2 linked regions of the Homo sapiens genome follow. The protein of the gene in region 2 interacts with the protein of the main gene of each other region in a pairwise test. Each region holds a gene or a part of one and is shown on either strand. Other genes may lie near its edges.

The links.
Region 1: the proteins of USP40 (region 2) and LRP2 interact in a two-hybrid assay, tested with the Homo sapiens proteins (one study listed by BioGRID).

The regions. Positions count from the first base shown.
Region 1 is NC_000002.12:169,128,405-169,132,231, forward strand, and holds part of LRP2 (low-density lipoprotein receptor-related protein 2 precursor), read right to left. Parts: intron 681-3,827; coding exon 609-680; intron 427-608; coding exon 259-426; 3' UTR 1-258. UniProt on the Homo sapiens protein: Multiligand endocytic receptor. Acts together with CUBN to mediate endocytosis of high-density lipoproteins. Mediates receptor-mediated uptake of polybasic drugs such as aprotinin, aminoglycosides and polymyxin B.
Region 2 is NC_000002.12:233,490,187-233,494,013, forward strand, and holds part of USP40 (ubiquitin carboxyl-terminal hydrolase 40), read right to left. Parts: intron 3,366-3,827; coding exon 3,239-3,365; intron 1,076-3,238; coding exon 981-1,075; intron 886-980; coding exon of another isoform or gene 846-885; intron 1-845. UniProt on the Homo sapiens protein: May be catalytically inactive.

The sequences.
Region 1 (3,827 bases), about 64 Mb from region 2:
CAAATATACAATATATTTATAGTATTACCTTCAGACAACTTCAGTGCAAAGATATACATATAGTACATTGTGATAATTATTTGTAAAAATATGAGACGGCATAAGTAAAAAAAGACACACAGGATACCTCCAACTATAGGCAAACAGGGAAAAATATATTTTTTTCATAAAGTACTGAATGTTAACTTTTTTCATCTGTTTGTAAAAAATATATGTGCAAAAGTGTGTTTCTAATTATTCCCTAAATAGCTGGTATAGCTATACTTCAGAGTCTTCTTTAACAAGATTTGCGGTGTCTTTAAAAGTGTCTTCTGTTGCAGAATAGGTTGGAGTTGGGTCTCTTCTCGAAGGAGGCTTAGGCTTAGCAGGGAGCGAAGGTGATGGAGGTGGTGTCGCAGCAACACTTTCCTTTTGCTCGTTCTCCATCTAAGAATACAATGTAACAGGAATCAGCCATTTATTCCCCCAAGGTCACCATACACGGTTTTTCATAAAGAAGACTATTTGTGGCCACTCTGCTCAGAATAATCTAAGTGTGTGTCCAATTTAACCAAGCAAATAATTTCTAAGAAAAAATGTCTGTGCTAAGAAAAATTGTTAAAAATTACCTGTGCATAGATTGGATTTTCAAAGTTGGTAGTTTGTTTAGATTTTCGTTTGAAGAGATTCCATTTTGTCACCTAAATGAAAAGGGGAAAACAAAAACCTCTCAGTAATGGAATTATTTTGTGGGTTTCTTTTCCTCCTGTCTCAGTTTTAAAATTTCTTCTTACTGAAGGGTAAAGCAATTTGGGACCTGGGACCATGTGATTCAGCCCATATGGTAAATTGTTCAATTCCTCCTATGGTCCCTGAACAGTAACTGAAACTCTGGGCTCTTTTAATCGAATGGTTTTAAACACTTCTTTGACTTCAAATTTATATATTATAGAATTTGTGCCATAGTATCTACAAGCAAATCACCTGGTTACCTCAGTACAGAGAGAACACATAAAACAGACATGCACAAGATGCATCTGGAGAAAAAGAGATTTCTGGGGCTGCCTGAAAATTGGGTGGAGATGGCAAAGCCAAACTGTAACTCTTATTCCCTAAAGTAACATTCTTTGGTCAACTCAAGAGTATCCCTTCTCCCTTCATCATTCCCTCCTGTGTCACAATAATAATAACAAAAACATCTAACATTTATTGAGTGCTTACTATGTGTCAGGAACTATTCTAAGAGTTTTACAAGTTTCTGATTTTTTTTAACAAACCCCAGAGGTAGGTACACTTATTATCCTATACTTGCTGAGTCACAGCAAGATTATACAACTAACTTGCAGGTAGAAGGGCAGGTAATGATTACTCAGGGGACCCAGAGGCCCATAAACTGGAGAACCCAAAGATAATCACCCTGGACCATGGTGCGTGGCCCACGCTTTACTGAAAAGTTGCCTGTCATGCTGACTGCCAGATAAAAACCTGGTGGGAGACAAGGGAACAGACAGCCTACTCTCAACAGGAGCTGAGGGAGCCCACAGGTTTTATGGGGTGTCTCTTACTCTGTGACAGCAGGGGACCAGCCTGTGGAGGAGTGGGGAACACAGGGCTACAGAAGTAGAAGAGGTCTTCACTTTAACCCACATTCAAGTGAGAACCTGCTTTGTACATAGTGCCCCCAAGGGGAACATGAAGACATTCAGGTCAGAGCCCTGCCTCTGGGCGCTTACAGTTAAGTGGGGCGGGCCAAAGTCTCTTAGATGTCATTGCTTCAAAATGAAATGGCTAACTTGAAGTTAAGCAATTACTAACAAGAGGAAAGGGACGGTGACTTTCATTTTTGTCTCCTTGGGGGATCCTATGCATATCAATGTAACTTTTGGAAAATGATAGAACTGAATCTTTTTTTTTTTTTTTTTGAGATGAAGTCTCACTCTGTCGCCTAGGCTGGAGTGCAGTGTCACAGTCTCGGCCCACTACAACCTCTGCCTCCCGGGTTCAAGCAATCCTCCCACCTCAGCCTCCTGAATAGCTGGGACTACAGGCATATGCCACCACACTCAGCTAATTTTTGCATTTTTAGTAGAGATGGGGTTTCACTATGTTGGCCAGGTTGGTCTTGAACTCCTGATGTCATGATCCACCCACCTCGGCCTCCCAAAGAGCTGGGATTACAGGTGTGAGCCACCGTGCCCAGCCCATGTTTTTAATTGTTAGTCTTTCAACATATTTATGGATGAAAGATACATTTGTGGGACTCTGGCATATTCAAATCAACCTAGGTGATCTCACCCAAGCGCCTCTACTGCTTTTAAAGCATGCTGGCTGTTAACTCAGTGCCCAGGAGGGAAGAAATACAGTGAGATCCCTGGACATAACATGGAAGACACATTTTAGAGGGTCTCAGCCTCACTAATGTAAAAAAGTAAGAGGAGGAACCAAGGTATTACAAAAGGGAAGAGAAAGAAAGGACTACAATTGGTGAAGATCTGCTCTCCTTTGAAAGAGACTGTCAGTTTACATTTTGTTTCTGATAACAGACATGCAGATCAGAGGTTACAGCCTCCCCACCACAGTCCCCTTCCTGCACCAGCTGGGGAAAATGTCTATTTAGTGAAGAAGATCACTAGACTAGAGATGGACTGAGAAAAAATGTTGAAAATATAAAATAAATCTGGCACTAGCTTGGGGTTGACTCAGGCTTGGAGGACCAAATATATGACATTCAAGCATCCGTGTGTCTGTGGAAAATTAATCTTCAAAATCCATTTTTAATATAGCTTAAAGAAAAAATGTTTAGTCCCTTGAAAAATCTGAAACTGAAAATTCCTTTCTAGACAATATTTATGTATGTCTGTGAGTGTATGAGTGTGTGTGTGTGTGTGTGTGTGTGTGTGTGTGTGACATGAGAAGAAGAAATAAGGGAATTTGAGAAGGTGTACAGAAGCCTTGATATAGACTCTTCTCAGCATCAATTTAGGTCAAATTTTATTTTGATTTAAATCAGCAGAACAGAAACCAATGTTTAAGGTGATAATGAGACTGCCAAGTTACCAAGATATCAATGTTTATAGACTATGAAATTTGAGAAATAAAGATTGTATAAAATGGTAAAATTTCCAACTACTCTTAGACTTTCATTTCTTTACATTACTTCACAAAATTGGTCATAGAATCTTAGAACAGAGACATTCCAGATCCTAGCGGTTCTCAACCAGGAGTGAGTGCACATGTGTTGGGGAGGGGAGGTGATTTCTGGGGTCACACTGAATTAGGGGAGACACTACTGGAATTTAGTGGACAGGGACCAGAAATACTGAAATTCCCTGAGTGCATAGGACAGTTTTGTAGCACAAAGAACTGTCCCACTCAATATGCCAATAGCGCCCCCAGTGAGAAATATTATTGAGGACTCTAGCCCCAGAAGTAAAACAGTTTGTCCAGATTCAAACAGCTATATCTGGTATAGCTGCAAATGCATTCATTAAAACTAATGATATACATTAATACAGAGTTTAATATCAAATATATTTATTGAATTTCTTCCTGCAGACCAAATAGTGTACCAATTGCAAAGGACCTGCAGGCATGTTTAAGAAGCTCCATCTAGTGGCATTTTTTTCTTTCAATCTCCAGTATTAAACACCATCCCTGACACATCGAGGGGAATAACGTTAGTTAGATGATTGGTTGGCCAATAATGAATAGATGGATGATGAATGGAAAAATTAGTGCCATCTAGTGGTAAAGATCTGTAATAGCAGGAGAGCGAAGAACAGCTTGAAAGAATAAAGATGCATGCTGTAGAGAAATCACGGCACACACAGACGGATCTTTCATCTGTA
Region 2 (3,827 bases):
GGAGTCTCACTCTGTCACCCAGCCTGAAGTGCAGTGGCGCAATCTCAGCTCATTGCAACCTCCCTGTCCTGGGTTCAAGTGATTCTCCTGCCTCAGCCTCCGAGTAGCTGGGATTACAGGTGCCTGCCACCGTGCCAGGTGAATTTTTTTTTTTTTTGTACTTTTAGCAGAGACAGGGTTTTACCATGTTGGCCAGGTTGGTCCCAAACTCCTGACCTCAAGTGATCCGCCTGCCTCAGACTCCTAAAGTGCTGGGATTATAGGCATGAGCCACCACACCCAGCCAACATATGCTTTTTCTTGAGGAAGGGTATTTCATATACTGAGGGCGCACAAAAGCCAAACATCAACAACCACTAGTCATATATAGGCCCCACATTTTCTCCTCTAAGAGAAGAAAGGAATGCTCATTTCAGTCCAACAGTAGGCGGATGCTGCTTCAACACTGCATTGTGCTTAATCCAGCCCTTCCATTTGGATAAAACCCTCCTTCTCTGTGAACGTTAATGCATAAGAAACAACACAATACCTAGAATATCTAGTTTAGCATCCTAACATAAAAGCTGGAGTTCTAACCTCCTGGAAAACTGGTAACACAGCTTTTCATAACAACATTTAACATATGGGTCACAATGGTACACAAACAATGTAAATAAAGGGATAAAGTGAATGCTTTACAAATGTTCCAAGAAACCATGTTTCCCTAAAAAAATAAAAATGAACAAAAGCCGCAAGTCACTGAGGATAGATTGAAACAAAAGCACAGCATGCCTGTCAGAGGAGGGACCAGTGAGGCCACGAGGAGCCGTCTGCACCATGGGCGTGTATTGCCTGCGGGTACTTACCACTGAACATGGCATATGACAAATGCCATATCAGAACAGACTGTAATTGAGGGAAAAGGAGATAGAAGAATATATTAATATCTCACTGGAAGAAGCCACATTACCACTAAGTTATGGTGCAGGAAGAAGTCTGACCTGAGACTTCAGCTCCGCCAGCGTGGCATCTTCTGAGATCTCTATGTCTCCCAAGTAGAGGAGAGAAACTTGCGCAGGCTCGTTCCCAGAAGCACCTTCCAAAGGACAGAGCGGGATGTTTACAAGGAACTTGAAACTTATTTTGTGTTTCTGAAATACATTGCCATGTTTTGATATTGTAAATAGGTTATTAAAATTCCACTCAAGAGCCTCTGCATCCAAGTCTTATGAGGAGGCCCTGTCTGGCAGGTAAGCAGGCAGGGACATGTTGTCGGCAGACTCCCAAGAGGTCTGTGACACTTATGCCCCTACCTTGAATGTACTTTTCCACATTCTCTCCTTCCTCAAAGAGGACTTTTTGGGTAGGATATGCTGGCTGCATTCTGTATGTTAGCTTCCTGTTTCCTCATCATAACACTCATCCCAACCTGTTCCTCGTGTGTGTGTGTGTGTGTGTGTGTGTGTGTGTCTGTCTGTCTGTGTGCAGGCGTTTAATCTGCCTCCTCAAAACAACAGAATTTTCAAGAGGAGGCAGGCCATCTATCTTGTCTCCCCAGTTCCTGGTACAATGGGTGCCACATAGTAAATGCCCAATAAATGTTTATTTATAAGGAAATCTTGACAATAAGAAGGCCTTTCCAAGTTTGTTTAAAAAAAGGGAAAAACACAATGCTTTCTCATCAAAAACAATATAAAAGCTGGCAACTAAATTTAGACTGTCTTCACTTATTTTTGCCTTAACTGTCTTTACTGCTGAGCATGCCACTAATGCATAGCAAGAAATTACAGAGAGATTAGAAGTCAACTAAGTGCATGAGAAGTTCCTCTTGTGTCTTAAGGAAATTACAGGCTGACACTACCGGAAAGATAATTTTAGGAAATTCTAAAGAATGAAATATATAATCACCTGCTACATAATGATTTGGTCAAAGACCACACATGTGATGTGATCCTATAAGATTATAATACTGTATTTTCACTGTACCTTTTTCTGTTTAGATACACAAACACCTGCCACTGTGTTATGATTCGCCTTCAGTATTCAATACAGTAAGCTGCTGTACAGGTCTGTAGCCTATGAGCAAGAGGCTACACCACATAGCCTAGGTGTGTAGGAGGCTCTACCATCTAGGTTTGTGTAAATCACTCTACCGTGTTCACATAATGATGAAATCATCTGACGATGCATTTCTCAAAACATATTCATGTTGTTAAGTGACACATGAGTGCATTTCCCATGTGTTGTGTACAGATGTATTACCAAAAAAAGAACCTTTTATTTACTTTTCACGTAGAAACATACTGATTAAACATGCTTTTACAATCTATATCCAATTCTATATGTAACTAGAATTCTATCACCAAGGCATTTTTAGCATTAGTTAACATGAACTACTGTAACCCAACTAAAAAGTAACTTTATGCCAATTTTATAGCTCATTCAACATTACTCTCTCTATATAATCCTAACTTCAAAGAATAAGGAGATAAGAATTTGACTCATTTATATTAATTTTATTACTGAGGCTGAAAAGATTAAAAAGAAATATAAGTAATATACTTCAAGGCACTAGAAAAACTAAATAAGTAAAGCCTGATAAAAAGAAAAACATAGCTAAAGAGTTGGGCCTATTAAAAATATACTCGCTCCATTTCTTTATAATGAAGTGGAACTCCTCTTTGTACAAGGGCAACAGAACTCACTGATAGTGACTTCTGCCCATCGTGATGTGTGCGGCTGAGTGCTGAGTAAGACAACATGCTTGTACTTGTCTATGTTCCTTCTCAGAAGTCAGTGAGATGATATCAAATGCCCTAGAAGCAGTTCCTGAGGGTTTTGAGGCAGAAAGATTGGAAGACATGTAGGATGTGGACTCCTGGTCTCTGCCCCTGTGGGCTAAAATGACATCATTAGAATTGGATGAAGTCTCAATATTCTGGTACGTGGTGATAAATGGGGCCCCTGTTGCCCTGAGGATCTTGAGAGATGATACATAAAAGTCTTTGGAAAGTGTAATATATTGATATAATAATAAACAACAAGATATATAGTGCTTTACAGAGGTTACAGAGCACGTACAGAAATGGCACAGTGTTATTATTATGTGATGTCTGGAATGACTTATGAAATTAATAGGTCTTGATTTTCAAGATCTTACGTTTTAAAAATAAATATATCAATTGACTCTCAGAGCACAGGCAGTCAATTTACTTCTCTTTATGATGCACTGGCTGCTGAAATCCCATTCTGTTCTCACCTTGGCTGGAAGTGGCTCTCCAAACTCTGCCCCAAGACGAAGTACAGTTGGTCTGGTCCTGATGACTCTCCCAGTGTCCTGAGGGACCCTGAAGCTGGTACCACCAGATGGGCACCTTCAGGAAACCCTGAAGAATGGAGCATGTTTAACTGCTGTGATTACAAAGATTAAGTGAAACTCTACTTTTACTTCCATAGAAAGAAACACCTTGATGACCTAAGATGTTCTTGAACTTATCATTTTTCCTTTTAGATTTATTAACTGTCATAAATTATACTTGTTTTTACAATCAAAAATTTAAAATCATAAAAATCAGACTTTGGGGTGACTGGACTAAATATCCCTTGCTTAAAGGTATCTTAGTAGATAATATAAATGAGAAGCATAAACAAGAACAATGCATTTGCTTGAACACACTATACCAGCGTTTCCAGGCGCTGTCCAAGCACTGCTGGCCCAGGATACCAGTCCCAGCAGTGCAGTTTATCACACAGATGCAAGAGCCCATTGATCTAATGGGTTTCTGATACAAACTAAAGGAAATAAACCCATTGTCTTATACATACCCTGTAATTTCAGTTTTACTTAT